Linked DNA regions of Homo sapiens: region 1 is linked to region 2. The links come from fine-mapping of genetic effects on plasma protein levels. A gene starts in region 2. The other region holds a variant in brackets. All regions are shown on one strand. Distances are between the middles of the regions.

Region 1 (15,814 bases), 150 kb before region 2:
CATTTTGGGAAGTCCGGGTGGGTGGATCACCTCAGGTCAGGAGTTTGAGACCAGCCTGGCCAACATGCTGAAACCCCATCCCTACTAAAAATACGAAAATCAGCTGGGCATGCTGGTGGGCGCCTGTAGTCCCAGCTACTCGGGAGACTGAGGCAAGAGAATCAGTTGAACCCAGGAGGCAGAGGTTGCAGTGAGCCAAGATGGCACCACTACACTCCAGCCTGGGTGAAAGAGCGAGATTCCATCTCAAAAAAAAAAAAAAAAATGCAAGTTTGTTTCCTCTTTTTTGAGACCTTTCTCATTAATGAATGTTCTTCCTATTGCACTACCCAAAGTCAAATGGTCTTCACTAATGGGTATATTTTGTCCCAGATGTTATTTAGAGGGTGCTCTTTGCAAGGATTGGTTAGATTTTGAAAACTAGATAATTAATGGAATTGTCAGTGGTCTCACCTTGGGATCATGGGTCTGAACAAATCGGTGTTGAGTATTGAGTTTTGATAGTGTATGAAGCACGTCATAGCTTCTGGCATGACTGGTCTGGCACAGTCAATCTGTTCTGTGAGTCAGGATATGCTTGGCAAGTTGTGGTTTCTGTTCCAATTCTCAACTGTCAGCATTTAGACTAGTACCTGGTTCATGGTAGGTGCTCAATACGTATTTACTTAAAGAATAATGAATTGGCCAGGTGCGGTGGCTCATGTTTGTAATCCCAGCACTTTGGGAGACTGAGACGGGCAGATCACTTGAGGCCAGGAGTTCGAGACCAGCCTGGCCAACATGGTGAAACCCCATCTCTACTAGAAATACAAAAAATTAGCCGGGCATGGTGGCGGGGGCCTGTAATCCCACCTACTCGAGAGGCTGAGGCAGGAGAATTGCTTGAACCCAGAAGGCGGAGGTTGCAGTGAGCCAAGTTTGCGCCATTGCACTCCAGCCTGGGCAACAAGAGCAAAACTCTGTCTCAAATAAAAAAAAAAAAAATCAATATATAGTTGGCAGCAGACCAAAAATAGTTCACCTTCTTTGTTAGTTACAGTTTGGCAAAATCTATATGAAAATACAGGCACACATACCTTTGACCTAGCAATTCCACTTCTGGGAATTAATTCCACAGAAATTTGCATATTGCAAAGAACCACCTGATAAGGTTACTCACTGCAATATTGTTTGCAATCACAAAAGAACAGATGTCTTAGAAATCTCCATTAGTAACAGCCTGCTTAATTCAGCCGTGGTGCACACATACAATGGAATAAGATGCAGGTGTAAAAAGAATGAGCAAGTTCTCATGATACAGAAGATCTCCAAGATATATTCACTCAGTTTCAACCATAACTGCTTTGTTCCTCAGAGCAAGTTCCTTCCGCTCCACGTGGAGGGTTTGAAGGCTTTGAAGGTTCAAATCCAGATATCTGGATTCAAAGCAGAAGAAACCTGGCTCACTCTCTCACTTTCTTCAGGCCTTGGCAAATCTTTCACTGACCACTATAGGAGAATAAAAATAATTTTTTCTTCAACCCTCATAGGTTTTTGATTGGAAAAGACCCTTGTAGCAAAAGATGAGATAAAAACAAACTGAAGTTTAACATGTATATTTAATGTATACATGGAACACACCCAGAGAATGAGTAGTTCTCAAAAAGGTGGCTTTGAATTCTAGCTTATGTGGCATTGTCAACAAAGAACAATGAATATTTAGAGAAGTGACAAGGCAAAGGAAAAGGATTTTGAGTCTCTAGGGGCAGCAACTTGTGAGAAAGCCAATAAATGGCAGAAACAGCCTGGCTAGTAAGGCCTGTTCATGTGGCTTCCTCTGGTGACATCTCCAGGCTGATAAGGGTCCAAAGTTAGACCTTCAGTGCTAATCTTTGTTTTCCCTGGAAGAAGGGTAGCAGGGTAGGATATCTTTTGCCTTTGTAAATCTATGTCCTGCTTTTAGGCAAATAGAAGGAGGGCAGAGAGCTTTCCTGTATCTGCTTCTTCTTAATTGTCTTTAGCTCAAAAATCCTTCATATTTTGGGGTGGCATATTCTGGTCTTCCACACCACCCTATCATAAAATATCCACATCCCATTCACCACCACCCTCGCCACACACACATGCATACATGCACACACATCTATCCCCTTACCCTGTTTTGCTCCATAGCACTTACCACTTATCACTATATATCACTTGTTTATTTATATCCCACAAAAATGTAAGTGTGGCCAGCTCAGTGGCTCACTTGTAATGCTAGCACTTTGGGAGGGCAAGAAGGGAGGATTGCTTGAGCCCAGGAGTTTGAGACCAGCCTGGGCAACATGGTGAGACCCCGTCTCTACAGAAAATTTAAAAACTGGCTGGGGGTAGTGGTGGGTGCCTGTAGTCCCACCTACTTGGAAGGCTGAGGCAGAAGGATCACTTGAGCCCAGGAGGCCGAGGCTGAAGCAAGCAGTGTTCACATCACTGCACTCCAGCCTGGGTGACAGAGCAAGACCTTGTCTTGGAAAAAAAAAAAATTTTTTTAAATGTAAGCTCCAGGAGGGCAAGAAATGTATTTGTTTTGTTCACTACCAAATTCCAAATGCCTAAAAGAGTGCTTGACACATAGTAGGTGCTCGGTAAGTGTTTCCTGAACAAATGAAAACAGTAAATGAAAAAAGCCAGAGGCATTTGAGCCCAGCCTCAAAATACTGGGCTGACTATCCTTATAAATGCTTCTATGTGAATGAAATGTCTTTAAAAGGTTACAGAAGAAATAGGTCATGCTGGTTGCCTGTCAGAAGGTGAACTTGGTGGCTGGGAGACAGAATAGAAGGGAGGCTTTTCATTATACAGTATTCTATTTGTAGATTATTATGCAAAAAATATAACTTAAAAGTAAAAAGGAAAGCTTCTGTATCATTCCTTTTTCATATCTCCATAGTATGCTGTCCTGTGGATGTACTAGAAGTCATTTCATCAATCCTATTTTAATGGGCAAGTTAGTTATTTCCAAACTTTTGCTATTGCAAATAAAGTAGTCTGGATATTTACTTTTCACGTTATAATAAATAGGACACTGAGGTCTTTTTATAACCCCTTAACTTTGGTTATAAATCTTTGCAGTTGAAAATGTAACCAACATCCCCAAGTAAACAAAAGTTTACTGCAGTTAAGTCCATTTGCATTTGCTGGCTGGGAGTGGGGCAGCCTCAGGAAGCAGAGGCTCCTGGGAAAGGGATAATTTAATTAGCATTCTTGCAATCTCATTGGTAAACTCACCCAATCCCTAAGCCTGTATCCTGATAATTTATCAGGATAGGGCTGTCTTACAAAGGAGGGCAAAAAAACAAAAGAACAAACTTCTAACCAAGATGTGGCTCACGCCTGTAATCCCAGCACTTTGGGAGACCAAGGCAGGTGGATCACTTGAGCCCAGGAGTTCAAGACCAGCCTGAGCAACATAGCGAAACCCCATCTCTACTAAAATACAAAAAATGAGCCAGGCATGGTGGCACACACCTGTAGTCCCAGATACCCAGGAGGCTGAGAAGGGAAAATCACCTAAGCCCAGAAAGTTGAGGCTGCAGTGAGCTGTGATTGCACCACTGCAATCTAGCCTGGGCAAGGGGAGTGAGACCCTGTCTCAAAGACAAACAAACAAACAAAAAGTGAAGACAGTTCAGTATTCCTAATTCATACAATGGGAAACATCTGAACTAAAGATTGAGAATCCTGGGTCTGCTACCGAGAAGCAGGGTGACCTTGAGGAAATCACTTCTCTCCTCTGGGCCTCCATCACCAGGTCTGTGGAATGCAGCCTTTGTCTCCCTCCCTCTCACTGGAGACTCAAACACTATGTTGGGTGACTTGAGGCAGCTGCTGAATGGTAGCAGATCTGCCAGGGCTGTCACTTTGTGGTGGTTCTGTAGGTAAATACGGCACTGTGTTGGAAGAGAAAAACAAACAGAGAAGCAGCTGCCTTCTTTTCCAGAAATGACACCAATAGCCTGCAACTACTCAGGTTGATGGGCATGCAGCAGCCCGATGACTCCAGAGATGCGGGGGCAGGGAGCAGAGCATCTGAAACAGGGACATCAGGACCCAGTGACTGCTCTGGTATGACTCAGGGAGGCTGTCAGGGTTGAGCTCTCTGCCAGGGATCCAGAGTGTCCCAGGAGGCCGTCTCTTCTGAAGAATCTGACAAGGCCCAGGCTTCTGGGAATGACTCTGCCCTGTTCTCCTGCCTAACCTGAAAACAGACTCTGGGGAGAAGGAAGCTGATTGACACAGTTTCATTGCCCCCAACACTTGCAAGTGCAAACAGAGGCCACATACCTTCTTATTCTTTGGATCTGTAATCAGATCCTCATTTGGTAAAAAAAAAAATATGAAGTTGCGGCCAGGCCTAACACTTTTGGAGGCTGAGGTGGGTGGATCACCTGAGGTCAGGAGTTCGAGACCAGCCTGACCAACATGGAGAAACCCTCGTCTCTACTAAAAATACAAAAATTAGGTGGCATGGTGGCGGGCGCCTGTAATCCCAGCTACTTGGGAGGCTGAGGCAGGAGAATTGCTTGAACCCAGGAGGGGAGGTTGCAGTGAGCCGAGATCGCACCACTGCACTCCAGCGAGACTCTGTCTCAAAAAAAAAAAAAAAAAGAAGTTGCAGGAATTGCATTCAACCTCTTCAAGTTATGAATTTAATGAGAATAATTTTCTTGCTTATTTTTACAGTTTCATCAGCATTAAAATCTCATTAAAAAAGAATCTGTGGCTGGGCATTGTGACTCGCACCTGTAATCCCAACACTTTAGGAGGCTGTGATGACAGCTCACTGCACTCCAGCCTGGGCAGCAGCAGAATCACTTGAGGCCAGGAGCTGAAGACCAGACTGGGCAACATAGCTGGACCTCATCTCTACAAAAGATAAAAAATTAGCCATGTGAGGTGTATGCATTTGTAGTCTTAGCTTGGGAGGCTGAGGCAGGAGATATGCTTGAGCCCAGGAGTTCCAGGCTGCAGTGAGCTATGATAATGCCACGGTACTCTAGCCTGGGCAATAGAGCAAGACCCTGGCTCAAAAATGGAAGGAAGGAAGGGAGGGAGGGAGGCAGGGAGGGAGGGAGGGAGGGAAGGAGGGAAGGGAAAAGAAAAAGAGTTTGTGAAGTTCTCTTGCTTACAAATTTTATGAGAGACCTCAACAGAAAACTGTTCATTTTCAGTGTTGCCAGTTTTAAAAAATTTAAGCTGATGCGCTTCTGAATACTTTTCCTTTTTTGGCTTTTTTTTTTTTTTGAGCTCCACTGTCATATTTTCTAAATTGATCCCAACTCAACTTGTATTCATTCCTAGTGATCTAAGAGTTTACAAAATAAAGTTGTTTTTCTTCTAAAACATTCAACTTTTTTTTTTTTTTTTGAGACAGTGTCTTGCTCTGTTGCCCAGGCTGGAGTGCAGTGGTATGATCACAGTTCACTGCACTCCATCCTGGGCAACAGTAGCCTCGACCTCCCAAACTTAAGCAATCTTCCCACCTAAGCCTTCCAAGTAGCTGGGACTACAGGTGCTCACTACCATGCCCAGCTAATTTTTTGAGCTCTCTCTGTGGCTCTTTCCCCAGCTCCACCAGGGGTCTCACTATGTTGCCCAGGCTGGTCTCAAACTCCTGGGCTCAAGTGATCCTCTCACCTTAGCCTCCCAAGGTGCTGGGATTACAGGCATGAGCCACCACGCCTGTCCAAATTATTAATATTACAAAGCAAAATACAAAAATTTAGTAAATTTAAAAAATAAAGTTATTTAAGTAAGGCTAAATTTTTTTATACTTGATAATTAAATCTTATTCAATATTATTATAAAAATAAAACTTCAGCCAGGCACAGTGGCTCACGCCTGTAATCCCAAAACTTTGGGAGGCCAAGGCTGGTAGATCATGAGGTCAAGAGATTGAGACCATCCTGGCCAACATGGTGAAACCCCATCTGTACTAAAAATACAAAAATTAGCTGGGTGTGGTGGTGCGTACCTGTAGTTCTAGCTACTCGGGAGGCTGAGGCAGGAGAATCACTTGAACCAGGGAAGCAGAGGTTGTTGCAGTGAGCCAAGATCGTGCCACTGCACTCCAGCCTGGCAACAGAGCGAGACTCCATCTCAAAATTAATAAATAAAACTTCACAATTCTGGGTTTTAATGTCTGCTTAATAAGCAAAGCAAAGAATCTGTATCATGCTTCAAATATCTTACAACTACATGTATATAAATGTAAGACAAATATGAATTCTTTTTTTTTTCCTTTTTTTAAGACAGGATCTAACTCTGTCACTCAGGCTGGAGTACAGTGGTGCGATCATGGCTCTCCACCTCCCAGGCTCAAGCGATTCTCCCACCTCAGGTTCCCAAGTAGCTGGGACCACAGGTGCACACCATCACACCTGGCTAATTTTTTGTATTTTTGGTAGAGACAGGGTTTCACCATGTTGCCCAGGCTGGTCTTGAACTCCTGAGCTCAAGCGATTCACCCACCTTGGCCTCCCAAAGTGCTAGAATTACACATGTGAGCCACTGTGCCTCGCCAAAAAATATCAATTCTTCAGCCTGGCAAAATGTTCCTCAGGCACTGTGGTATATTGTTACATAATGGTCCCCAACACGTCTTACCTCCCTGCATCCAGCCCCTTTGCAATATAATTTCTGCCATGTTTCTCATGGAGACATAGAGTCTATATCCTTCCAACCCCTGGATCTGGGCATCCCTTAAGGCTTCATTTGCTCCATAGACTGAGACAGAAGTAACATGTTGCAACTCCCACAGCTAGGCCTTAATTACATTACACATTTCTGCCATTATGTGAAAATGCCCAGTTCTTTCCTAAAGGAGGAAAGGCTATTTGAAGGAGAACTAGGGCACCCCAGCCAATAGCCAGCGTAAATATCAAGCACATAAACAAAGCCATCTGGGAACATCCAGTGCCAGCTGAGCTGCTGGCTGACTGCAGCTGTATAAGTGACCCCAAAGGAGATCAGCAGAAAAATTGCCCAGCTGAGCCCAACCTAGAATTATGAGCAAATAAATTTTTGTCGTTTTAAGCCACCCAGTTTCGGTGTGGTTTGTTACGCAGGAATAGATAACTGACACAGCCACCACGTGCGACTCCTGTAAACACTAAGCTAATTTGTGAATGCCTCCAGAATCACGGATTAGGACAAATTAAGAAAAAAATAGGCCCTTGGCACTATTGAGAAATAATATTTGGTTATGCCAGGACCTCTTGAATTCATGCTCTCTGAGAGAAGGGACACACATATGAGGCAATTACATTCCTTCTCCCTCCAAAGCAGTGTCTGTCTCCAGTGTCAGCAGGGGCACAACCTGTAGACCTTCGCAGTGTTTGGGCTCAGCAGCCTTTTGTTTTGAGAACATAGGAGGGAAATGTGGAGACTAAGGGTGTTCATCTCACTCATCGGTGCTCACGATTACGGGTCACACTGTGCCAGTGATATGTCCAGCATCCCAGGTGACAAAAGCTCCCATGTGGTCTTCAATAAATTTAATTTTTGTGTTTGTGACATGCAAGGCCCTCCAAAGGGTAGAGGGCCTCTTGCCTGGTCTAAGGGCAATATTGCACTGGCCCCAGATTCCAGGAAATGATGGAGGCCTTGCTTGGGGATTTGTCTATGAACAGTGACTAAGGAAAAGCACTAATGGCTATTCAAACTTGATGTCTATCTCTCTCATTTTTTTTTTCTTTTTTTGAGATGCAGTCTCACTCTGTCATGACCAAGCTGGAGTCCAGTGGCGTGATCTTGGCTCACCACAACCTCTGCCTCCCAGGTTTAAGAGATTCTCCTACCTCACCCTCCTGAGTAGCTGGGATTACAGGCACACGCCACCATGCCCGGCTAATTTTTGTATTTTTAGTAGAGATGGGGTTTCACCATGTTAGTCAGGCTGGTCTCGAACTCCTGACTTCATGATCTGCCCACCTCGGCCTCCCAAAGTGCTGGGATTACAGGTGTGAGACACCACACCCAGCCGATGCCTATCTCTTGACACACCAATCCAGCTTTAGAGAAGATATCCTATAGAAACAAAAGGACTAATAGAGAAGGGTACGTAAAAATGTCTGTCACAAGCATCGCTTAATGTAGCAAAAAGTGAAAAACAACATATACATCATTAACGGGAGATGGTTTCGTGAATTGTGATCTATTCATATTAGCACATGTTATAAAACCATTGAAAAGGTTGTTATATTTATGTTTAGTGACTTGGAGAGATTTCTTTATTGAATATTTACTGAGCATCATCTATGAACCTAGTACTGTTTAAATGCTAGGGATATAGCAGGGAATAAGACAAGGTTTTTTGCTCATGCATTTCACATCTTAGTGGAGGAAGACAGGCCATAAACAAATAAATAAGTATATAGTATCAGCTGGTGAGAAATGCTATGAAGAATAATGGTGGTGGGTTGGGGGATGGAGCCCGGGAGGAAGTGAGGGAAGGAACATTGTGGCCATCAGGAGGACGGGCATTCCAGACTGAGTGCCAAGGCCCTGATTTGGGAATGTGCTTAGTGTGATCTAGTAGCATCAAGGAGGCCAGGG[T/C]AGCAGGAGATGGGGATGGGAGGGAAGGTCAGAGAGCAGAGCAGGGATGTTGGGGGGCGGGGGATGTATATGCATGTTGTAGACCACGTAGGGCCTGGCAGCTCCTGGTGAAGACTTTGGTTTTGGTTTTTTTGGTTTTTTACTGATGGGGTCTCACTGTGTTGCTCAGGCTGCATTTGAACTCCTGGACTCAAGCAATCCTCCTGCCTCAGCCTCCCGAGTAACAGACAATGAATGCACTCCCCCCACCTGGCTAAGATAGGTTTTTACTCTGAGTAGAATGGAAACCAGTTAAGATTTCTAAGCTGAGGAGCAACGTGATCTGACAGATTTCAAAGGGTTCCTCTGGCTGCTGTGAGGGGAATGGACTGAAGGGACAAGGGTGGAAGCAGAGAGGGGTGTAGAGGCTGCTGTAGCTAAGTGAGAGAGACAGGATTGGGCTTGCACCAAGTGGAAGCCACGAGGTGGGGGGATGCAGTCTGATTCCAGATGGATTTTGAAGGTGGAGCCTGCAGGACGTCCTGATGGAACTGGATGTGGGGTGTCAGCAAGAAGCCAGACGGCCATTTAATAGTGTTAATGACTAAGGCTAGTTTCAGAGGAAAGAGAGTATAGCCCAATCCCATTTTTGCTCAAATAAACATCAAATAAGACACACTCCCTGTGCACGGATCTTTGTGTATACTAATCCGAGTCTATTAGTTGGCTAGGGCTGCCATCACAAAATACCACAGACTGGGTGGCTTCAGCAACAGAGATTTATTTTCTCAGTTCTGGAGGCCGGAAGTCCAAGATCAAAATGCTGTCAGGGCTGCTTTCTGGTGAGGCCTTTCTTCCTGTCCTGTAGACAGCTGCCTTCTCCTATGTCCTCATATGGCCCCTTCTTTGTGCTTGCTTAGGAGAGAAGTGGGAGCTCTCTCGTGTCTCTTTCCCTTCTTATAAGGACAGCGGTCCTTTTGGCTTTAGGCTGCACCCTTGTGACCTCACTAAATCTTAATTAGCTCCTTGTAGGCCCTGCCTCCAAATACAGTCGAATTAGGGGTTTAGGGCTTCGCCGTATGAATCTGGAGGGACACAATTCAGTCCATAACAATGAATACAGAGAAAGCTGCAGAAGGACATCCACAAGCCATTGCACTCCAGCCTGGGTGACAGAGCAAGACTCTGTTTCAAGAAAAAAAAAAAAAAGAAACCAACTTTCTAGCAAAAGGATCCAGAACATACCATGGTGAAGAGAGTTTCTTTCCTAAACTCCCCTTTCTGCCTAAAAGCAGAGCCTCCCAAAAGAATGCAACCATCATAGATCCCCTTCCCAGAGGTTTCCCAACCATGGAAGAGTGACTCCCTTCACCAGAGGGGAAGCCACAAGGCTATAAAAACTCTCCTAAATAGACATGGTCACAAAACTATCATATCTCCCTCATATCTATTTGCCTTAGGGCCCATTTATCTTTTCTAGAAGTCGCTGGTTTTCCAGTCTCCTTTCTCTCCATCCCCTTCTCCTATTAAGGGTGTATATTGTGTCATAAAATGTCAGAGCTACCGCCAAAAGACAAAGGTCTTTCATCTGAGAGCCTGTGAAAAAGATATATAAGCCCCCAATCCTAATCACCTCTTTGAGCCACATTTTTCTGTGAATTCCCATGTATGTATGTGAGTAAAATTCTGTTTTTGTTTTGCCAATCTGTCTTTTGTCAGTTTAATTCACAGGCCTCCAACACTGAACCTAAGAGAGTGGGGAGAAAGTGTTTCCTTTCTCACAGCTGTCACCTCCTCAGAGGGGTTTTTCCCTGGCTATTCTATCTCAACTAGGCCTCTTTCTCCTTTTTGTTTCCCACAGCATTTACCATACCTTATTCTGACTTTATTTGTCTGTTTACTAGGTTTTGGTCTGCCTTTCAGTAGAATGTAAGCTGCATGGAGGCGTATAATACAAATTCATTAACTACTCAGTGAATGACTGGATGAGGAAATCCGTCATCCTTGGCTCAGGTATTTATTGGTGAGTCTACAAGTGGCAGCTCAGTTCAGCACTCACTCACTGAGAACTTATTAGGTGTCACGATGGTGCTCGGCGTTAGGAACACACAGAGGCCCACTCCCTGTCCTCGAGGAGCTTACAGGAAAACAAGCAGCTATGCTGGGCCCTGGGAGAGGCAGGTATGAGCAGGAGAACCTTACTCTTCCCTCAAGAAGTTTACTGGTATAGGAGGCAGGGAAGAGAAAAAGGAAAACACGTGATAAGGAGCTTGGAAACAAACATGACTCCAAGTACAGTTATTTAGTACACAAATAAAACAGAGATGGTTAAACTATTCTCTAGGCCTTTGTTTAGGGAATAATTCACATCATTCTAATTACAGGGTTGTGAGAATAACAACAGTGTTGGATGGAGCTCATGGTACTTCTGCTTCATTTAGACAAATCTGCCTAAGGAGAGCCCATCCCCTACATACACAGACCCGCTGACAGGCATCGCTGGTTTCTCTTGGAAGCTTTCCAAGTGGCAAGCCTGGCGCCTAGGCTAGTCTTGGAGCCTCTAAAAAGCCTTTCAGGGCTGCCTCCCTACCTCAGTCAGGGCCCCATTAGCTATAAAGGCCAGAGATATACTGAAATTACCCCACCCCTCAAAGAGCACGTAAATAAAAGGGAGAATTTATTGAAATTATTTCAATGCACAGGAACCCAAGAGAAACTGAATAACTAGGCCAGGCCTAGTGTTCTCCGAAAGTGTTCTCATTTCTTCAGATTCCTGAGTTTAAATTTCCATATTCCCCTATTCTCCCCCCAGGTCAGGTGTCCGTGCTGCGGTACAATCATCCCACCCCTGTAAAAACAAGGCCCCCTAGGCCAGAGGAGATAACTCCAAAAGACAACCAGATGGGTGGAGTGATCAACCTTTGTGGTTCATCTGGGACTGAGGGATTTCATAGGGAGCATGGCTTTTAGAGCTAAAACCAGGAACGTTCCAGACAAACCTGGAAAAGTTAGTAATAAGTTCAGCCAACGTCACATCCGTTTCATGCCCATACATCATTAATTTTTTTTTTTTTTTTGAGATGGAGTCTCGCTGTGTTGCCAGGCTGGAGTGCAGTGGTGGAATCTTGGCTCACTGCAGCCTCTGCCTCCCGGATTCAAGTGATTCTCCTGCCTCAGCCTCCCGAGTAGCTGGGACTACAGGCACGCGCCACCATGCCCAGCTAATTTTTGTATTTTTAGTAGAGATGGGGTTTCACCGTGTTGGCCAGGATAGTCTCAATCTCTTGACCTCATGATCCACCCACCTCAGCCTCCCAAAGTGCTGGGATTACAGGCGTGAGCCACCGCACCTGGCCCCCTTCATCATTAATTTTAAGCAACACATTTCTTCATATTTAACATCACTGAAACCAGGATGTGTTTTAAAATGAGTGGCGTCCTGCAATGCGAAGCTGAGTTCTCCTGGAAATGATGCACAGCTGCCAGTCACTTCTAGGTCACCACCAACCTGAGACCACATTAAATTAATTTTCAGCTTGACTTTTTCAGACCACACTGACAGCATGAATTCAGACCTCAAATCTGCATGAGCACAGGCTCGTGGTTCAAATTGTCAGGAGAGAATTGTTGTTCCTCCCTCCACAGTGTCAGGATTGAGACGTGCGCATTTCCAGCCTGCCACTCCTGTGGGAAGACTTATTTTCTTACAGCATCCCAGCTTTTAAGTGGTGTCTCCATATTTGGCTTTTTTTTTTCTTGCATAATGGTACATAAAATAACAGTGCAGCTTACAGTGGATGGTGTCTCCAGTTGGATGAAATACGGGTAATCCTCAACCCCCACCAGCCGCTAGTGCTGGAAGGAGGCTCAGTTCTGTGGAACCCTGGCTTCTCTGGGTGGGAAGAGAATGCTGTCCCGGGTACCTAGGGCTGGATCCTGAGGATATAGAAAGAGTTCTCTCTTGGCCCTGATGAGCTTTTCTCTGAGCTCACTGGCTTGCAGAGCCTGGCAGCCCATTTGGAAAAGTTCTTCACCAGTCTCTCTAGACATATCAGTGTTTAGATAGCCTTCCTTCCCTACAAACACAAAGCTCATTTGTTTGAAATGTTGCAAAACTCCTCCTAACCACTGCCACATGTAGAAAACCCATGGAAGCAGAATTGTAGGAGAATAAGAAGGAGAGGCAGTGTTTCAACTTGAAAACTGGTAGACATGCTTTTTTTTTTTTTTTTTTTTTTTTTTTTTTTTTTTTTTGAGACGGAGTCTTGCTCTGTCGCCCAGGCTGGAGTGCAGTGGCGTGATCTCAGCTCACAGCAACCCTCTGCCTTTCGAGTTCAAGAGATTCTCCTGCTTCAGCCTCCTAAGTAGCTAGGATTACAGGTGCACACCAATACCCCTGGCTAACTTTTTTGTATTTTTAGTGGAGATGGGGTTTCACCATGTTGGCCAGGCTGGTCTCAAACTCCTGGCCTCAGGTGATCCACCTGCCTCGGCCTCCCAAAGTGCTTGAGCCACCATGCCCCACCTGGTAGACATGCTTTCTAACCCCCAGGTTTTCTTTCCCTCCCCCAGGGTGTTCAGCATTTCCTGAATATGTGATACCCCATCCCTATCCTCAGCTCATTCAGTTGACCTTTCCCCAGTCCCCCACCCAAAGCCACTCACCCTCAGGCTGGCTCACCTGTCCTCAGACCCCATCGTTTGTCTTTCTGTGTTGGGGCTCAGGACACACCACCCAAAAATATTACTGTAGGAGACCCAAATATGCCACCCCAAAATACACTTCATTGGTATATTTTGAGCTGGTTATTCTGAGAAACTGCAGACAGGGGTAGCTCTGAAAAGCTTTCTTTTTATAAAAAAAAAAAAACACATCTATAAAGGAAGTTTACCTTAGTAAAAGTATCTGTATTAGGAAGAAGGCTGCTTAGACAAGCTTTATTACCTGAGAGACTTTTCATCTGTGTAAGGTAACCCCCCAGAAGCCCCAAGCCCCTGTTCCTTTCTGTAGCTCAGGATGCTATATAACCTCCAATCATTTGGCCCTTCTGTGACTCTCCTGTTTCTGTGGGTCTCCCATGTGTATGCATGGAATTAAACATGTTTTTCCCCCTGTTAATCTGTCTAATGTCAATGTAATTAGTAGCCTAGCCAATGAACCAGAAGGATAGAGGAAAGCCATTTTTCCTCTCCAATACCTGGTATCATTTCCCAGCTTCCTGAGTGCCAAGGTCTGAATGTTTGTGTTCCCCCAAAATTCCTCCTCTCTGGTTAAAATCCTAACCCCCAAGGTAATGGTGTTAGGAGGTGGGTTGGGGGGGCCTTTGGGGGTGATTAGGTTGTGAGGGCTGTGCCCTCATGAGTGGGATTAGAGCCTTTGTAGAAAAAGCCCAGGGAGCTGCCTTGCTCCTGTAAACCAAAAATAAAATTCTAAGCCCCGCACCATCTGCACAGACCCCTCCTCTTGGCAAGGGCATTCCAAAGCTAACCTGAAAAACTAGTTCAGGCCATGATGGAAAGGAGGGGTCAGACTGCCTCCCTATACCCTCCTCCTTTTTGGAATTACTGATAGAACAGACTCTTTAAGTCTGATAAGAAACATTTACAATCTATTCTCTCTGAAGCCCACTACCTAGAGGCTTTACCTGCATGAGAAAACCTTGCCTCTACAACCCCTTATCTTATCCCAGGCATTCCTAAGTCTTTAGACAATAACTTAACTCTTTCAACCAATTGCCAATCAGAAAAATTTTTGAATCTACCTATGACCTGGAAGTCCCCCACTCCTTCCTGTTGTCCTACCTTTCTGGACCAAACCAATGTACATTTATGTGTATTAGATTGATGTCTCATTGATATGGTTAGGTTCTGTGTCCCCACCTAAATCTCATCTAGAAGAGTAATCCCCATAATCCCCACATGTCAAGGGAGAAACCAGGTGGAGGTAATTGAATCAAGGGATAGTTCCCTCCATGCTGTTCTTGTGATAGTGAGTGAGTTCTCATGAGATCTGATGGTTTTATAAGGGACTCTTCCCCCTCCGCTCAACACTTCTCCTTCCTGCTGCCTTGTGAAGAAGGTGCCTTGCTTCACCTTCTGCCATGATTATAAGTTTCCTGAGGCCTCCCCAGCCATGCTGAACTGTGAGTCAATTAAACCTCTTTTCTTTATAAATTACCTGGTCTCAAGCCATTCTTTATAGCAGTATGAAAAAGGACTAATACACTAATGTTTTCCTAAAATGTATAAAACCAAACTGTGCCCTGACCACCTTGGGCGCATGTTCTCAGGCCCTCCTGAGGGCTGTGTCATGGGCCATGGGTCACTCATATTTAGCTCGGAATAAATCTCTTCAAATATTTTACAGAGTTGGACTCTTTTCATCGACACTCCTTCTACCAAGTGAGGACACATTGAGACGGCGCCATCTATGAACCAGGAAGCAGACCTTCAACAGACACTGAATCTGCCAGAACTTTCATCTTGGGATTTCCCAGCCTCTACAACTATGAGAAATACATTTCTGTTGTTTATAAGCTGCCCAGTGTATGGTATTTTGTTACAGCAGCGTGAATCAACTACTTCCAGCCCAGGGCAGGGACTGTGTCCCCCTGCTGTGTTCAAAGGCAGGGCTCAAACCCAAGGCCAGCCACAGTGAAGCCCCAGGTGGGTGTAGAGGCCTCTTGCCCTGGGGGGAAAGTGGTACACCTTATACTCTGCAACGACCTTCCCAGCTCTGCCAGACCACCCGGGCTAAGGAAAGGGAAGGCAGGACAGGTATGCAAACTCCAGGCTCACAAAGAATTCTGAGGTTTTGTGAGCGCTAAGAATCCAGTTTACGCAAAAAGAGTTTACTTTGTCTAGTTTAACCTAAACCATAAGAGTTGAAGGTATTGATAAAGTGGGACTAGGCGTCTGGTTTTGGTGAAAGAGCCCTGGATTTAGATTCAGAGATTAATATCCAAACTCTGCATTTCTGGGTGCATGACTTTGGCAAGCTGCTCCAACATTTTAGACCTCATTTCCCCCCATTTATAAAAGGAAAGTTATTATTCCCATTTTGGGATTGTGCAAGGATTAAATGGGATAATGTACGCTTTAAAACATGCTTTGTAGACACTAAAGCATTACACAAATATTTAGCCCTGGGAGGGGAGATAAAAGGGTATTCTGCTTAGTGCAATGCTTTTAAATGTGCAGGTTATGAGCTATCAGCAGGTCATGAAAAATATTTAGTGAGTGTAAGGGAAGAATAAAA
Region 2 (14,467 bases):
CTAAAAGGCTACCACAGGGTTACTGTTTTTGGTAAGGGGAAGTCGATGCCAGGAGGAACTTCTCTATTGATTACAGCAATGACCACCATTTATTAAGCACTTCTTAGCTCTCCTGGTGCAGTGCTAGGAGTTTGGCAAACATCCTATTTGTCCTCAGAAATAATCTTGCAGAGCAAACACCACCATCCCCAAAACCAGATGTGTAAAATGAGGCTCAGGTGAAGAATAACTTGCCCAAGATCACTGAATTAAATGTGGCAGAATCAAGTCTAATGAATGGCAAGGGTGAGAACTGGTCAGTTTCACAGAGAATTAGGCCTTCATCATACAAATGCCGCCTGCACAAAAACTAAATGAGAAACAGTGAACCCTTGCTGTAGGGAGAAAAAGCAATATTCCGAACTAAAAAAGTAGTTTCAAACAGAAGATCTAATGATAAACACATTTGTAAAGTCTGAGCAGGGAGGAAAAGGATTACTCAAATTACTCAAGTACAGCCCTATGGGGCTCCTTCACTTCTGTGTTCTTAAAATCTAATCTGGTTTAAGAGCGCATGGGCTCCGAGTAAAACTCTCCCAAATTCCTCCAGGCTTAACCACCCTCTACTCAAAAGAACCAGGAGCAGGAGTTAGGACAATGGGAAGTGACCGCCCTGCCCTGCCCTGCCGGTCCTCCCTCCGGGTCAGCTGTCAGATCCGCATGGGTGCGACTATAAGCCGGCACCGGAGCCCCGGGACTGGCTCGGCCAGGGTCCCCGCCTTTTCACTCCCAGTCCCGGCCCTGTCGGCCACCTCGTTTACCACCTCCAGAGGCACAAATAATTATACCGGAAGAATTTGTTTTAACAAGTAGAATTCTATATTCACCAACTGGCTTCGCTATCGGATATTACGGTAGGGTTCCAACAAGAGAAGGGCAAAAGAATATAGTTTAATTGTTCTAAACAATCTTTCTGAGAAGTTGGGGTGGCTGAGGCGGCCACGGGGATACAGCTCAGGCACCTGTGAGCTAAGCCCACTCTACAAACTAACCACCCCTACGTTTTGGGCAGAAGAGCGCCGCCTCGCCAACCCAGGTTATAAATGTACATATTTTTAAAGATGAGCTTTGACGCTGTGACACTTGTGGGGAGTCTCCCGACGGCTCCTCTACTTGATGGGGGTACAGGGAGTTCTGCGGCTCCCCAGCCCCGAGTTTCAAATACCGTGGCCTGGAAATTAACCGGGTGACTCGGTTTATTGCCTCCAGAAGGGTCCGCCTGCCGTGCTGGAGTAGCCGCCAGTCCCGCGCCCGCAGCCCCGGCAGGGCCCCCCACGCCCACCTTCCCACGAGGGGTGTCTCGTAGAGTCCGGCTTCAGGCGCTCCCTGGCCTGGCAGCACCCACCCCACCCCGCCCCACCCCACCCCCACGACTCGGGCTAGCAGCCTGGTTAATCATTCAACGCAAACAGTGTGGAATATTTTTTTTAAAAGGTCAAAGCGAAAGGTTTTCCCTAAGTTTGGCAGAAACCAGTTTTGGGGGAGCCGGAGACAGAAGTGGCAGAGGTTGGGGGTGGGGGGTGGGGAGCGGCTGCCGGCGGCTCTTTGGCTCACAAAACACCTGATCTCCCCATGCGGCACGGGAGGCCGGCGCAGTGCGAGGGTGGGGTGCGGGGGTGCGAGCGAGGAATCACGCGCGCCCCCCTCCCCGAAATGCCCGCGCGCCCCGGATGAGGAGGCCCGGCCCCAGATGCCCCTTGCCAAAGCCCGCATCGCCCCGGCGCCGGATCCCCCGGAAGTTGGGGTGCAGCGAGGAGGGGGAAGGTCCCCGGGCTCCAGGGCGAGGTGGGCACGGAATGGGTTGGGAGGTTCCAAAGCCCCGCAGCGGGCGGTGTCCCTCTCCTCTCCCTCTGGGCTGAGGTTGGGTGGCTGGGACGGCGGGAAGGTAAGGGAGGCTTAAATGCGGCAGGAGCCACCTAGGGACGGCTTCCTCCACCGGGGCGCGGGTACGAAGCCGGAACCGGCGAGGAACCGGGCGGGGGTAGCAGGGTGTCCGGAAGGTGGGGCCGGGAAGCAGGGAGGCGGAAGGGGACTGGTAGAGGGGCCTGGCGGTGAGAGGGCAGCGGGGAGGGAGCCGGCGGGGGTGCTCGGCGCCCGGGCCCTACCTTGTCCGGGAGCAGCTCCAGCTCGGCGGGGCGGGGGCAAGGGCGGGAGATCGCGGCCACATCCACGTCCCGGCCGCTCCGCGCGGCTCAGCCCGGCGACCGCCGCAGCTCACGCTCCATGCGCGGCGCCCCGGACGGGCGGCCCGGCGGTGTCGGCGGCAGGGACTGCTCCGGCTTGGCTCTGCTAGCCTCCGGCACTTGTTGCCGCTGCTGCCGCTGCCGCTGCGCCTCACTCCAGGCTCCGGTTCCAGGCGCAGCAGCCGCCGCGGGCGCCCGGCCCCGCCCCTCCCCTGCCCGCCCGCCAATGGGGCCCGGCCCCGCCCCTCACGTCACCGCCCGACGGCCCCGCCCCGCGCCCCAAGTTTTGGGAGGGTTCCGCTCTCCCCACCCGGTACCAGGACCCACCCGGGCCCGCGCTCCCTGCGGCTTCCAGGGACCCTCCAGCCCCCACGCACCCTCCTGCAAAGCCGAGGGTTAAGCTGGGGAAAGGGGGCCTCTAGGAAGGCGACCCCCCTGGAAATGCCTGGCAGCTCCAAAAACACTAATGAAACTCAGCTCCAGCCTCCGCCCCTCCAGTTGTGGGTGGCCCCTCTTGCGGTTCGTCTGAGGCTAGGGGACTAGGCGCATCGCCTAGCGAGACTCCAGTGGCCTTTTCTGTCCAGTTTGTAACCGGAACTAGACCGACCCCGGCCGCCCCCTCCAGTGCTGGGGCGGGTGAGGAATGGCCCCGCCGGGGAGGCGGGGGAGGGAGGCCTGGGCCACCCTGGGGTCTGACCTTTGCTCCACCTCTTAGGTGCTCACGACCCAGAGTGGTGCCCTGCTTGGTACTGCCACTGGATCCTCTGGCTTATGAAGCCGTCCAGGACAGGAAGGGTGGGGGGTGGTCCTTAGTTCTCTTCGTGGGGTCATGCAGAGTGGTTTCCTCGAGGTCCCACGCCCGTCTCAGGAAGCCAGAAACGCAAGATGCCGGGCGCTCGGCCCGAACCCGTGCCGCGGCCCAAGGGGCAAGGCGGATACCGAGGCAAGGCCTAAAGGGCCGGACTCTGACCGCACCCTCCGGACACTGCAGGGCTCCGCCGGCCAGAGGCGGCCTTGGCGCCAACCACACCTAGCAGCGGGGTCCCCGGGCCCACCGATGCGCCCTCCTAGCCCCGCGCTCCTTCGAGGGGTTCCAAGGTGACTCAGAGACGCAGCTGACACAATTCTGAGGCCCCCAGGTAAGCCTGGCGATACCGGATGGAGAAGTTACCTGGTCTTGAAAGGCCCAGTCCAGCCAGCGAGACCCGCGTGCGCTCCGCGGGGAGGCAAGCCTAACCAGGGGCTCACCTGGAAGCGTCCCCGCCCCCTGGTCCTTATCTCTGAATCGAAACCGAACCTGGACCCATCTAGATAATTGGACTGAGCAATTAAGGACGCTTCGCTCCTAACTGTTAGCATTTTTTCCTAAGGCTCTCGGAGGCGGAATCAGCTGGAAAGGAACATTGCTAAGTAGGAATTTCAGGCACCTGTGAACTGAGCCCACTCAATAATCGGCCCTTTCCCTTAACCAAACTCAGCAAAGGAAGAAAGACCAAGTTGCTGCGGATGCACAGAGCCACGTGGGTGCGGGTCCTCTAGAAACAGGAATTCAGAGTCAGTAGATATGGAAATGTTATGGTTTGCAGTCTTCGGACCATGCTGCTTTCATGCTGTTCACATGATTCTCCTCGGACTGCGAGGTAAAGTCCAAGAAACAAGTCGAATGTTTGTATTTTCATAGAAAAAACATCTGTAAGGGTGCACACCGACTGTTAACCACGGTTACGCGGGGAGGGGAAACAAGGGAGTTACATTTTTTTACTCCCTTGACTTTGGATTTTGTATTTTTCCAGTTGTATTTACTTTCATAATTTAGAAAGCTAATAAAACATGTTTAAAGAAACAGAAGCTAGAAATTCTCTAAGAACTCTAGGAAGTAGAGGCCGGGCGCGGTGGCTCACGCCTGTAATCCCAGCACTTTGGGAGGCCGAGGCGGGTGGATCACAAGGTCAGGAGTTCGAGACCTGTCTGGCCAACATGGTGAAACCCTGTTTCTACTAAAAATACAAAAATTAATGGTGACATGTACCTGTAATCCCAGCCACTTGGGAGGCTGAGGCAGGACAATCGCCGAACTCAGGGAGGCGGAGGTTGCAGTAAGCCGAAATCGTGCCACTGTACTCCAGCCTGGGTGACAGAGTGAGACTCTGTCTCAAAAAAAAAAAAAGAACTCTAGGGAGTATAAATTAATAAATGAAGTCTATGTCTTCATTCTGTATCAAAATAATATTGAGTCCATGTTCCTGGGTTTAAATAAAGATATCTCTAGGCTGCTGTCTGATATTTAAATGCAGTGTTGAGACAAAGCGGACATCTAAGGAAGATTTTCTGTGCCATCAGATTGGTATATTGTTTCCATGCATATGTGTCTTCCCTTTAAATGCACTCCCTGTAGCCACAGACATGCTTGCAAGAACGGCCAGCCAAGGAGTTTATAGTAAAGGAGCTGCTACAATGTCAGCTGGCAACCAACTAGGAAATTAAGCTTGTGTCCCTCGCTGCCCAAGGCTGCCCAGGCCATGAAATTTAAAAATAAGGGTATTCTTAGGCCAGGCACGGTGGCTCATGCCTGTAATCCCAGTACCTTGGGAGGCCAAGGTGGGCGGATCACTTGAGGTCAGGAGTTCAAGACCACCCTGGCCAACATGGTAAAACCCCGTCTCTACAAAAAATACAAAAAAATTAGCCAGGTGTGGTGGTGGACACCTGTAGTCCCAGCTACTTGGCAGGCTGAGGCAGGAGAATTGCTTGAACTCGGGAGGTGGAGGTTGCACTGAGCCGAGATCGTGCCACTGCACTCCAGCCTGGGCGACAGAGCAAGACTCCGTCTCAAATAAATAAGGGCATTTTCTCCATGGTGGCTTTAACACAGTTGGGAGTATATCTACAATAGTTACCTTGTGTCTTTTGGGGAGTAACTCAATGCTAGATTCCACATCGCTTGGCTATAGTCCCTACTGTTAGGTTGGGACCCAGGTCCATCATCAGTAGGCAGAGATGTGTTATTCACTTATTCAACAAAAATGTACTGGCCATCCTCTAGATGCAGCACAGGACTAGGCGCTGGAGTGGTGAACATGGCAAACACACTCCCTGCTTGGAGCTCACAGTCTAGCTGGAGAGAGGGGCTTAACAATTAAATGCACTATTAATTAATTACAATTGTGATATGGGCCACAGGGAGTGCAAGGTGGTGAGATCATCTGGGGAGTCCATGAGGAGTTCCTGGCTGGTTCAGACTATAAAGGAAGAAGTGGTTGAGGAGGAAGTTAGAGAGGCAGGCAGGGGTTAGATCACGCAGGGCCAGTACACCACATTACAGAGTTTGGACTTTATCCTGAGACATTTGAAACAAGAGTCATACACTCAATTTTGCATTTTGAAGTAGATCACTCTGACTGCAGTGTGAAGAAGGAATAGGGAAAGGGGAAGAATGGAATGGAGGGACAGTTAGGAGGCTGTTGCTATAATGTGAGAGGGGCCATTTGTTTAAGCAGTAGAGCAAATGTAGAGAGGTAGACACCAACGAGACTTGGTAATTGCTTAGGGGGGATGAATCAAGGAAAACTCCCAGATCTCTGCTTCTTTAACCAGATGGATGGTGGTGCCATTTTCTGAGTTGGAGAACCCTCTCAAGGTTCAAATTTGGTCAAAGTAGGTTTGAGGTGCCTGTGAGATGTCCGGGTGGAGATGTTGAACAGGTGGTTGGCTGCAGGGTCTGGGGCTCTGAGGAGAGGCTGGGGCTGGAATAGCTGGTGTGGCAGTGGTAATGAAGTCACCAGAGGCTTGTGGGCTCCTATGAGAGTGTACAATTAGATCAGAAGAGGACCTACCACTGAGCCTTGAGGAACTCTTATCTAAGGGCCAGACAGAGGCAAACCTCTGGCAGAGGAGGTGGAAGAGCAGCCAGAGAGGCAGGAGGAAAACCAGGAGCTTGGCCAGGTGCAGTGGCTCACGCCTGTAATCCCAGCACTTTGGGAGGCCGAGGCAGGTGGATCACCTGAGGTCAGGAGTTTGAGACCAGCCTGGACAACATGGTGAAACCCCATATTTACTAAAAATTAGCTGGGCGTGGTGGCAGGCGCCTGTAATCCCAGCTACTTGGGAGGTTGAGACAAGAGAATCGCTTGAACCCAGGAGGTGGAGGTTAAAGTGAGCCGAGTTCACACCATGCACTCCAGCCTGGGCGACAGAGTGAGACTCTGTCTCAAAAAAAAAAAAAAAAAGAAAAAACTAGGAGTTTGGGGAGGTGGGGGTCACAGAGTCCAGGGACAAAAGCACTCTAAGCAGGAGGCAGTAGTCAACAGCACTCAAAATGGGTGACAAAAGATGTGTCTAGTGGCACACACCTGTAGTGTCAGCTACTCAGGAGACTGAGGTGGGAGGATAGCTTGAGCCCAATTTGAGGCCAGCCTGGGCAACATAGCGAGACCCCCATGTCTTTTTTTAAAAATGGCTGGCCAGGAGCAGTGGTTCACACCTGTAATCCCAGCACTTTGGGAAGCTGAGGTGGGTAGATCACGAGGTCAGGAGATCAAGACCATCCTGGCTAACACGGTGAAACCCCATCTCTACTAAAAATACAAAAAATTAGCCGGTGTGGCGGTGGGTGCCTGTAGTCCCAGCTACTCGGGAGGCTGAGGCAGAAGAATGGCATGAACCCGGGAGGCGGGGCTTGCAGTGAACTGAGATCAGGCCACTGCACTCCAGCCTGGGCAACAGAACAAGACTCCATCTCAAAAAAAAAAAAAAAAAAAAAAAAAAAAAAGGCTAAGTGACCCAAGTGAAGTGAAAGTTGAATAACATCCACTGGAGTTAGTGACCTTGATGTCGTTGGGACTTTTACAGAGCAGCGGCTGGTGGAATGAAGGGGATGGGCAATAGACTGGAGTGGATGGAGGCATGAGCAACAGGTGAAGAAATGAAAGGCACAAGGTGCAGACAATTCTTGAAAGGTTTAACTGTGAAAAGTCAGAGAAATAGCTGGAGGGGAATGTTATGTCAGCAGTGGGTTTATTTTGGTTTATGTATTTTAATTATTTTTAGGATGGAATTACTTCAGTATATTTAAATGCAAATAAGGAGGATCCCACAGAGAAGAGGAAGATGAAGGTACAGTAGAGAAAGGACAATGGAGCACAAAGGCTCCTGTGCCCATGGGAGGGATGGACCAGAGTGTGGGTGGAAAGGCTGATCTGAGGCAGGGGCCACCTTCTGTATTATAACAGGAGGAAGGAGGCTGGAGGAGGACTGAGCCAGGCTGCCATCACAGAGATAGTTGAATCTTTCCACCTGATGATTTCCTCTTAACTCTGTGACATAAAGGAGGCTAGCAATAGGGCAAGGAGAGATGACAGATTTGAAGAGAGTGGAGAAGGTATGACAGTCACTGCAGGAGTTTGGGAGGGTCGTGATGACCAGAGAAACAGCCAGATAGCAAGGCAGCATGGCAGTCCACTTGAGGCTGGTGCCTGTGAACTTTTAAGGTGCGCTTTGGCCCTCCTGTGTGGTTTCTTCCAACAGCTCAGCTGCCCACTGTGGTGCCAGCTCAAATGAGGAAATTACCAGGGCAGAGGAGCAAAGGAATTGAGAGCTTTGGCAAAGGTGAGGTGGCACGGTGAATGATCAGAGAGAAAGGACAGGAGCCAAAGGACTGGAAAAGTCAAGGAGTCAAGACCAAGTCACACCAGAAGGAGAGGAATTGGGTCAGAGATCTGGATCTGAAGTAAGGAGTTCAGGAGGTGGAGAAGTTTAGGGCCATGACAATGCCAGGACATGATGGGGAGGCATAGAGGAGAAAGTCATTGGAGAATATGAGGTCAAGAGATTAAGAGGGCACTGGATAGGTCCTCTGTGTGAACAGGAAAGCCATCCAGGATGTGAGGAGGAATGGCAGTTATGGTGTGAAGGCCATGGAGCCAGGAGCTAAAGTTTTAAGAGAGTGGGCAAGAGGGAATGACCAGGAGAGCAGAAGATAAAAAGCACCAGGCAAGGGACAGGCACTATGGCTGGGCAACAGTCTCCCCAAAGGAACAACAGCATTTATGGGACGTGGAGGAGAAGTGATCAGGTAGGGGAACAATTAGTCAGGGTTGGGAAAGTCTGGGAGGCTTCCTGGAGAAGGTGGAGTGGAAGGCATCCAGACTGCTCATTTATCCTGAGAACATTTGTGAATGTGCCCATTTCTTTGTGGCTGTGAAGACTGTTGATCTGACAGTCTGAAGAGGGTCTATAAAAAGTTTCTAGGTCATAGATTTCTCCCTTGGCACTCCTGCTTCCCAGCGTGTTGTCACTCCTGTAGCCCTGCCACCTCTCAGTCACACTCATGTGCTCCTCCGAGGTGGACAGGCAGCCCAGACTACACAGTGAATCCTGTGTGCTTTGCCCTGGGCCTCTCATGTCTGGCTTTTCCATGTCACTCCTTCTTCTTTTCTTTTTTTCTTTCTTTCATTCTTTCTTTTTCTCTTTCTCTCTCTCTCTCTTTCTTCTTCTTTTTTTTTTTTTCCCCAGGCTGGAGTACAGTGGTACAATCTCAACTCACTACAACCTCTGCCTCCCAGGGTTAAGTGATCCTCCCACCTCAGCCTCCCAAGTAGCTGGGATTACAAGCATGCACCACCACGCCCAGCTAATTTTTGTATTTTTAGTAGAGATGGCATTTCACCTTGATGGCCACACTGGTCTCGAAATCCTGATCTCAAGTGATCCACCTGCCTTGGCCTCCCAAAGTGCTGGGATTACAGGCACGAGCCACAGCATCCGGCCTTGTCACCCATTTTTCTGGTGAGGAAACGGGCTGATCTTCAGCAAGTTTCCTGTGTCCCCTTTGGTGCCAGCATCCACCTGGTATTTTTGCCCAGCCAGACTGCAAGCTTTTGAGCAAGCAGACCTGAATGCCCCTCCTTCTCAGCCTTCAAGGTCTGCGGTTTGCCTCACTTCACCTGGCCAGCCTAGGACACCTTCATGCCCACAGAGCCACAGCCCTGGTCTACACCCACCTCCTTTGTTCTTTACTGCCTCTGCCTCACTAACCAGGAGCACCCCAACAACCTGCCATTCAGGTACAGACCCCATGGAGATGCCACCCTGGAACTCAAACATCTATAAGCCCAGAGCTGGCTTCCACCTTCTTGGTTCTGTTGGAACCAACTCCTGCAGCCCTTTGGACATGGTTCAGAATGAAAGCCTTCTTCCTCGGTGGCAAACCCCATGGCCAGATGGGTGCCTGAGCCCTGTATCTCCCTCCTCCTTTCAGCACAGATCTAGAAAAGTTCCCAGCCTGTCTAAGGGCCAGGCACACACAGATAGCATCAGCAGCAGAAATCCCCAAACTTTGTATATCCTCCAACTTAGGTTGTCACAGAAGGATGGCAATGTTTCCTAGTCTGTTAATCAGTCCCAAGTGGAATTATGAAAACAACAACCACCTCTCTCAATGGCTAAAATATTAATTATTGATGGAAAGTGTGGAAGCTTGGCACTGGAATTCTTAGAATTCTACTCCAATCCCTTGGAACTGGCAAATGAGGCCCCAAAAGTAGCTTTCTGGAAGCCAAATACCTAATACCAGAGATAATATCTTGAACGTTGGACAATTAAATCACAGGTTAAAAATCACCTGGCTCTTAAAGCAGGTCCTTTGCTCCGAAGGTTACTATGACTTTGGACTTTGTAACAGTTGAAAAACAGCCTCATTATCAGATGCAGATATAGAAACAAATGTAATGATTCCCAGGGGACTTGCTCCATATTCCAGAGTCCTGATGCTGAAAGAACTTAAAATTCCCAGGTTAGTAAAGTCCAGCGTGTATAGGACATTGTGGTGGTACCTATGGTCAACAATTTGGAGGGGCATGAACAGCTGTCTCTATTACGGTCATCATATTGTTTTGGGAATAGAATTCTCAGTAAGGAGAAATGCAAAATCATAGTCTTAATTATCATCAAACTGAAAAATTATATTCAAGACGAGAGGCCCATAATGGCAGCATCAAGCATGAGACAGTGCCATTAATATGATTATCAGGACATAAGCCTATTAGAGAACTTAATGCCTTTTTGCTGGCATCGCCCTTTGTTATGCTTCTCAGGGTTTAGAAACCATCTCAGTTGTAAACATAACTGTTACAAAACAGTGATTTCCAGGGGGCATAACAAAGATCTGCCCACCTTTACCAAAGATCAAAGCTGCCTGGCTATGGAGAAAGAGAATATTTTTAGAAAATGAAGACCAATCTCCCAACTCTAGGTGGCTCTTATTGAGAAAGGAAGAAAGGGAGTGTATCTCGCTCCAAGTCTTGCTTTGTGGCAATCCAGTTGTGGACATGATTGTGAGGTTTAACCACCACATGGAGATATGCATGCAACAACTCAGATGGATACAGTGGCCTAGGTCTTGGCTGCTGCTAGTGAAAAACCATGGTATGGAAATCCCCAATTCCAGGTTCAACTCCCACCTTGGGAAGAAGCCAAGTGTGGTCCACATGGGAACAGTAACATCTAAAGAGTTCTCAGGAAGAGGAAATTAGGTCATTTATGGCCAAGTACCTGCAAACATTTGGGGCTTAATAAATGTTTGTTTCCCTCCTCAGTCTTGGCCATGGAACCAAGTCCCCATCAGGATAAAGTATGAGTGGTATCTTGGCATAGAATGCTTCGCATTCTCAACATTTGTCCTGGGCCCTCCACTGGAGGAACTGCCATTCTGTCCTCATTCCAAAGGGTTCTGACGCCATCATCATCAATATAATCATGTAGAATGGAAAAATCAATTGGCTGTCCCTGGAAGGAGCCACCTGCTTGATCTTTAGGATCCAGTGACTTACGAAACTCACTTGGCAAAATCGTCTTACAGCAAAACCATTGCCAGGAAGGGCAGGGCCTCCTCCTCAAACACGACAGTCGGCAGTCAGGGAAATCAGAGAGCAACAGATCCCATAAATAGTCTGAAAGGGAAGCAGGATCCATGCGACAGCACAGATGAATCTTCCAACATTACGCTGAGAGAAAGAAGTCATACGCAAGTACAAGTGAAGTTTAAGAACAGGCAAGAACTTATCTATGGTGGCAGAAATCAGAACTCGAGTTGCTTCTGGGATAAAGAGAGAATTAACTGGAAAAAAAAGCATGAGGGAATTTTCTGGGATAAGAGAAAGATTCTACCACTTAATTGGAATGTTGGTTACATGGGAGCATACCATTGTCACAACTCTTTACACGGTAAACTTCATATTTGTGCTTTTCTTTTCTGGAAAAAAATAATTTTTTTATTAGTTAACTGCTTGAAATATGTGCATTTTATTGTTTGTAAATTGTACATCCACTTTAAAAAAAAAAAAAAGGAAGCAGCAGTCTTTAGGCAGAGAAGAGTATGGGCAAGTGGGAAAAAAGAAAGGGCTTCTCCACCCATCAATCCCACTGCTGTGTTAGGCAATTTTCCCTGTGCCAAACTGTATGGCAGTTATGAACTGACATTTCAAAATCAACTACAGAGAGGCGGGAGGCATTTTCTAAGAATATCCTAGTCTGTGCTAACCATTTAGGTCCAAGCCACATTCCCTTACATTTTGAAAGCTTTTCATCACCATTTCCTTCTTTTCTCATCTAAGGTCATCCCAGGAAAGGGTTTTTCAGAGTCAGCAGCCCTCCATCCCCAGCACTGCATACACATTGCATAACATTGGCCGTATAAATTTTACACCCATAAGGCCATGGAAAAAGGAAGCAGTTTAGTTGATCAATCAGACATGTTTATGGCCATCAAAAATCAGGAAAAAAAGAGAGTTTGGATCACTAGAAAACTTCCAAGAAGAAAAGAATCCTGACAACCAAGGATTTCAAAACACAAAGGCCCCCAAAGGGTGGGAAAATGAAATGGGCAGTTGGAACTAGAACTAAAATTGCAAATTTGATGCAACTTCATCATTAAGTACTTGTGTGACAAATCCCTTCTGTGCTGTCAAAGGGGATGTATCACACATGACAAGAAAATCACAGGCAGAGTAGGCTCCAACCCAGCACGTCGTGGCTCTGCTTCAGTCTGACTTCTCTGCTGTTCTCTTGGCTCCATCTTCTTCTCACATCTATTGCTTTCTACAGCTATTTCAGGCATCTCAGTCAGAGCCAACATCCGACAGAAAAGGGACTCTTTCTTCCCTTGTCTCTTGTTATGACCCAGAAAACCTTTCCTACAGTTCTCTACCCAAGTTCCCTTCTCGTCTCATTGGCTAGAACACAGTCACATGACCCTTCCTAAGCCAATCACTGGCGAGAGTGTATAGCGCCATCCTGAATCGTTTAGACCAATTTGAGTTTTCAAAGGATGGCAGGATAGGGTGGAGGGGGAGGGCAGCATGAATTGCATGAAGAAGGCATGGTCCCCCAGACACAGGGCTCTACCTGCCCGATAAAGGGGGTGCTGTAGGTAAGGTTTCCAAGCTCGGAAACAGAGGTTGGCAAGCAGGAAGTTTATTGAAGGGTAGGTACAGCATCAACGCCTGAGGGGAAGTGAGGTGGGTAGGAATGGACAAAGAGAGAAGTTGAACTGCAGTGCAATCATGGTAAAGACCTCAGCTGATCTTTCAGGGAGCTCTGGTGGTGGGATGGCCCAGAGTTATTACAAATTGGGGTGAAAGGACGAACCCTTTTTACTCCTGCGTCCGCCAGTCATTAGATGTGGGCTGCCCGTGGTCAATGTGAGCTTCATCTTAGGCAAGGTGACTCTCTCTGCAGCAGAGGACAAGTGTCAGAGAGGAACTCAGCGGACAGTTGCCGCCGTCAGCACTCCCAGTAGATGGGGGCATGAGTGCTTCAGTCTTGGAGGGGGGATCTGGGTGACACATGTCATCTGCTATAGGGAAGATGAGTTTGCATTGTCAGTCCCTCAGGTCTCCTAGAATCCAACCTGGAGTCTACACTCATGTCCAGAGAAAACACGGCAGCCTTGACCAGGGCCATTTCTGGAACCCTCCACTTCCTTGGGGAGAGGGAAGAGGAGAGCATCCAAGAGTCAGCACAGCACTACCTTGGTCGTTACTAGTAGGACAGCTGAGAGATAGCTGTGTGGACTGAGTCTGGGTGGGACCCAGCGGGACCCAGCCCTCAGACTTAAGGGGCATGAGGCCCACAAGAATGAAAATCCACAGGATTAGTCTTGAACAAGCCGGGAGCCTGCTAAGCCCTGGCATCTGCTGAACTTCCCAAATCACACACATTCAACTGTTCGGTTCCACATTTCCATAGTGTGCTTCCTGCCAAGCTTCCCAACACAGTGTACACAATAGGAAAATTGAAATGAGCAGTTCTAGCAACTATGGATATGCAGGTCAAATAAATAAGTCTTTATCTAAGACTTAAGCAGACATGGTCAACAAGGGTCTAATTCAAAACTGAGCTTTGGAGAAAGAAAGATTTTACAAAACAAAAAGAGGGGGAGGGAATAGAGCTGTTTGCATGAATTTTTTTCTGTCTCACTAAAAATACTGAAATATCATTTTATCCAGCCTCTCCATGCTGCCCTGCCTCCTCCACCCCATCCCTGGCTGTATTCCTACTCTGGCTGTAGGGCCAACTCATAGGAAGTGTTATGCTAGGGTATGTAAATAGTTGTCATGGAAAGGAGCTGGGGAAATTACTTTGTGCATTGTTATATATCTAGTTAAATGCCTCAAAATTAAAGCCATACACATGGGTGTTTTTGTGTCTATTAAGGAAGCACAGGGAATATGTGTTATAGAAACCTCAAGCATTTCAGCTAAGTGAGTAAGAGCAAGGAACTTGAATCTTATACTTCGGGCTGCACCTACTGTAGTGTGGAGCCAGATGTGGTAGAAATTTTTTTTTTTAACAAGAAAAACTATTTACAAGTTTCTCGTCACTCCTCATTCTAGCAGTAGATACACCGACTCCCCTTGGAAAAAAACCACTGGAGGGTCCTTTGGTTATGTAGATATAAGGCCAGGGGCTGTTGGTTGTCTTGGGGAAATGGAAATGAACAGTTTTGATTTCTTTTTTTCCCTCCCTGCGCTGACAAAGGCCACCCCTCCTCCCACAGGCCCACAATCTTGTCTGCAATTCTGAAATCCATAAAGGGCTGGAAAATGAGTTTTTTCAGAAGGTGGCACTAAAACTAACATGGCAGCAAAATCTGACTGGACCTTATGGGAGGGCATAGTTTTTATTTATCCTATGTTTCACTACAAATATGTTAAGGTGTTTGATCATGGAGCTGCTCCGAACACATTCAT

What was found. A credible set is the group of variants that fine-mapping cannot tell apart. PIP is the chance, under the fine-mapping model, that this variant and not a neighbour inherited with it causes the effect. Sun 2018 read protein levels with aptamers (SomaScan).
Region 1: its variant is the best candidate, but not a certain one, in a credible set for the plasma level of the B3GNT2 protein (Sun 2018, PIP 0.63).

What each region holds. Positions count from the first base shown.
Region 1 is chr2:62,329,403-62,345,216 of GRCh38, reverse strand. No RefSeq gene overlaps it. Among named protein-coding and RNA genes, the nearest start is that of MIR5192, 130 kb to the right of the region's middle. RefSeq lists an enhancer at 10,984-11,213. The variant T/C (reference allele first, on the strand shown) is at 8,578.
Region 2 is chr2:62,184,033-62,198,499 of GRCh38, reverse strand. It overlaps B3GNT2 (UDP-GlcNAc:betaGal beta-1,3-N-acetylglucosaminyltransferase 2), which reads right to left and starts at 2,385. Exons shown (of 2, transcript NM_006577.6): 1 at 2,145-2,385. It overlaps LOC124906013 (a long non-coding RNA gene), which reads left to right and starts at 2,487. Exons shown (of 2, transcript XR_007086336.1): 1 at 2,487-3,361; 2 at 3,593-4,511. RefSeq lists enhancers at 990-1,099, 2,080-2,686, 3,293-3,900 and silencers at 1,510-1,859, 2,040-2,479, 2,770-2,999.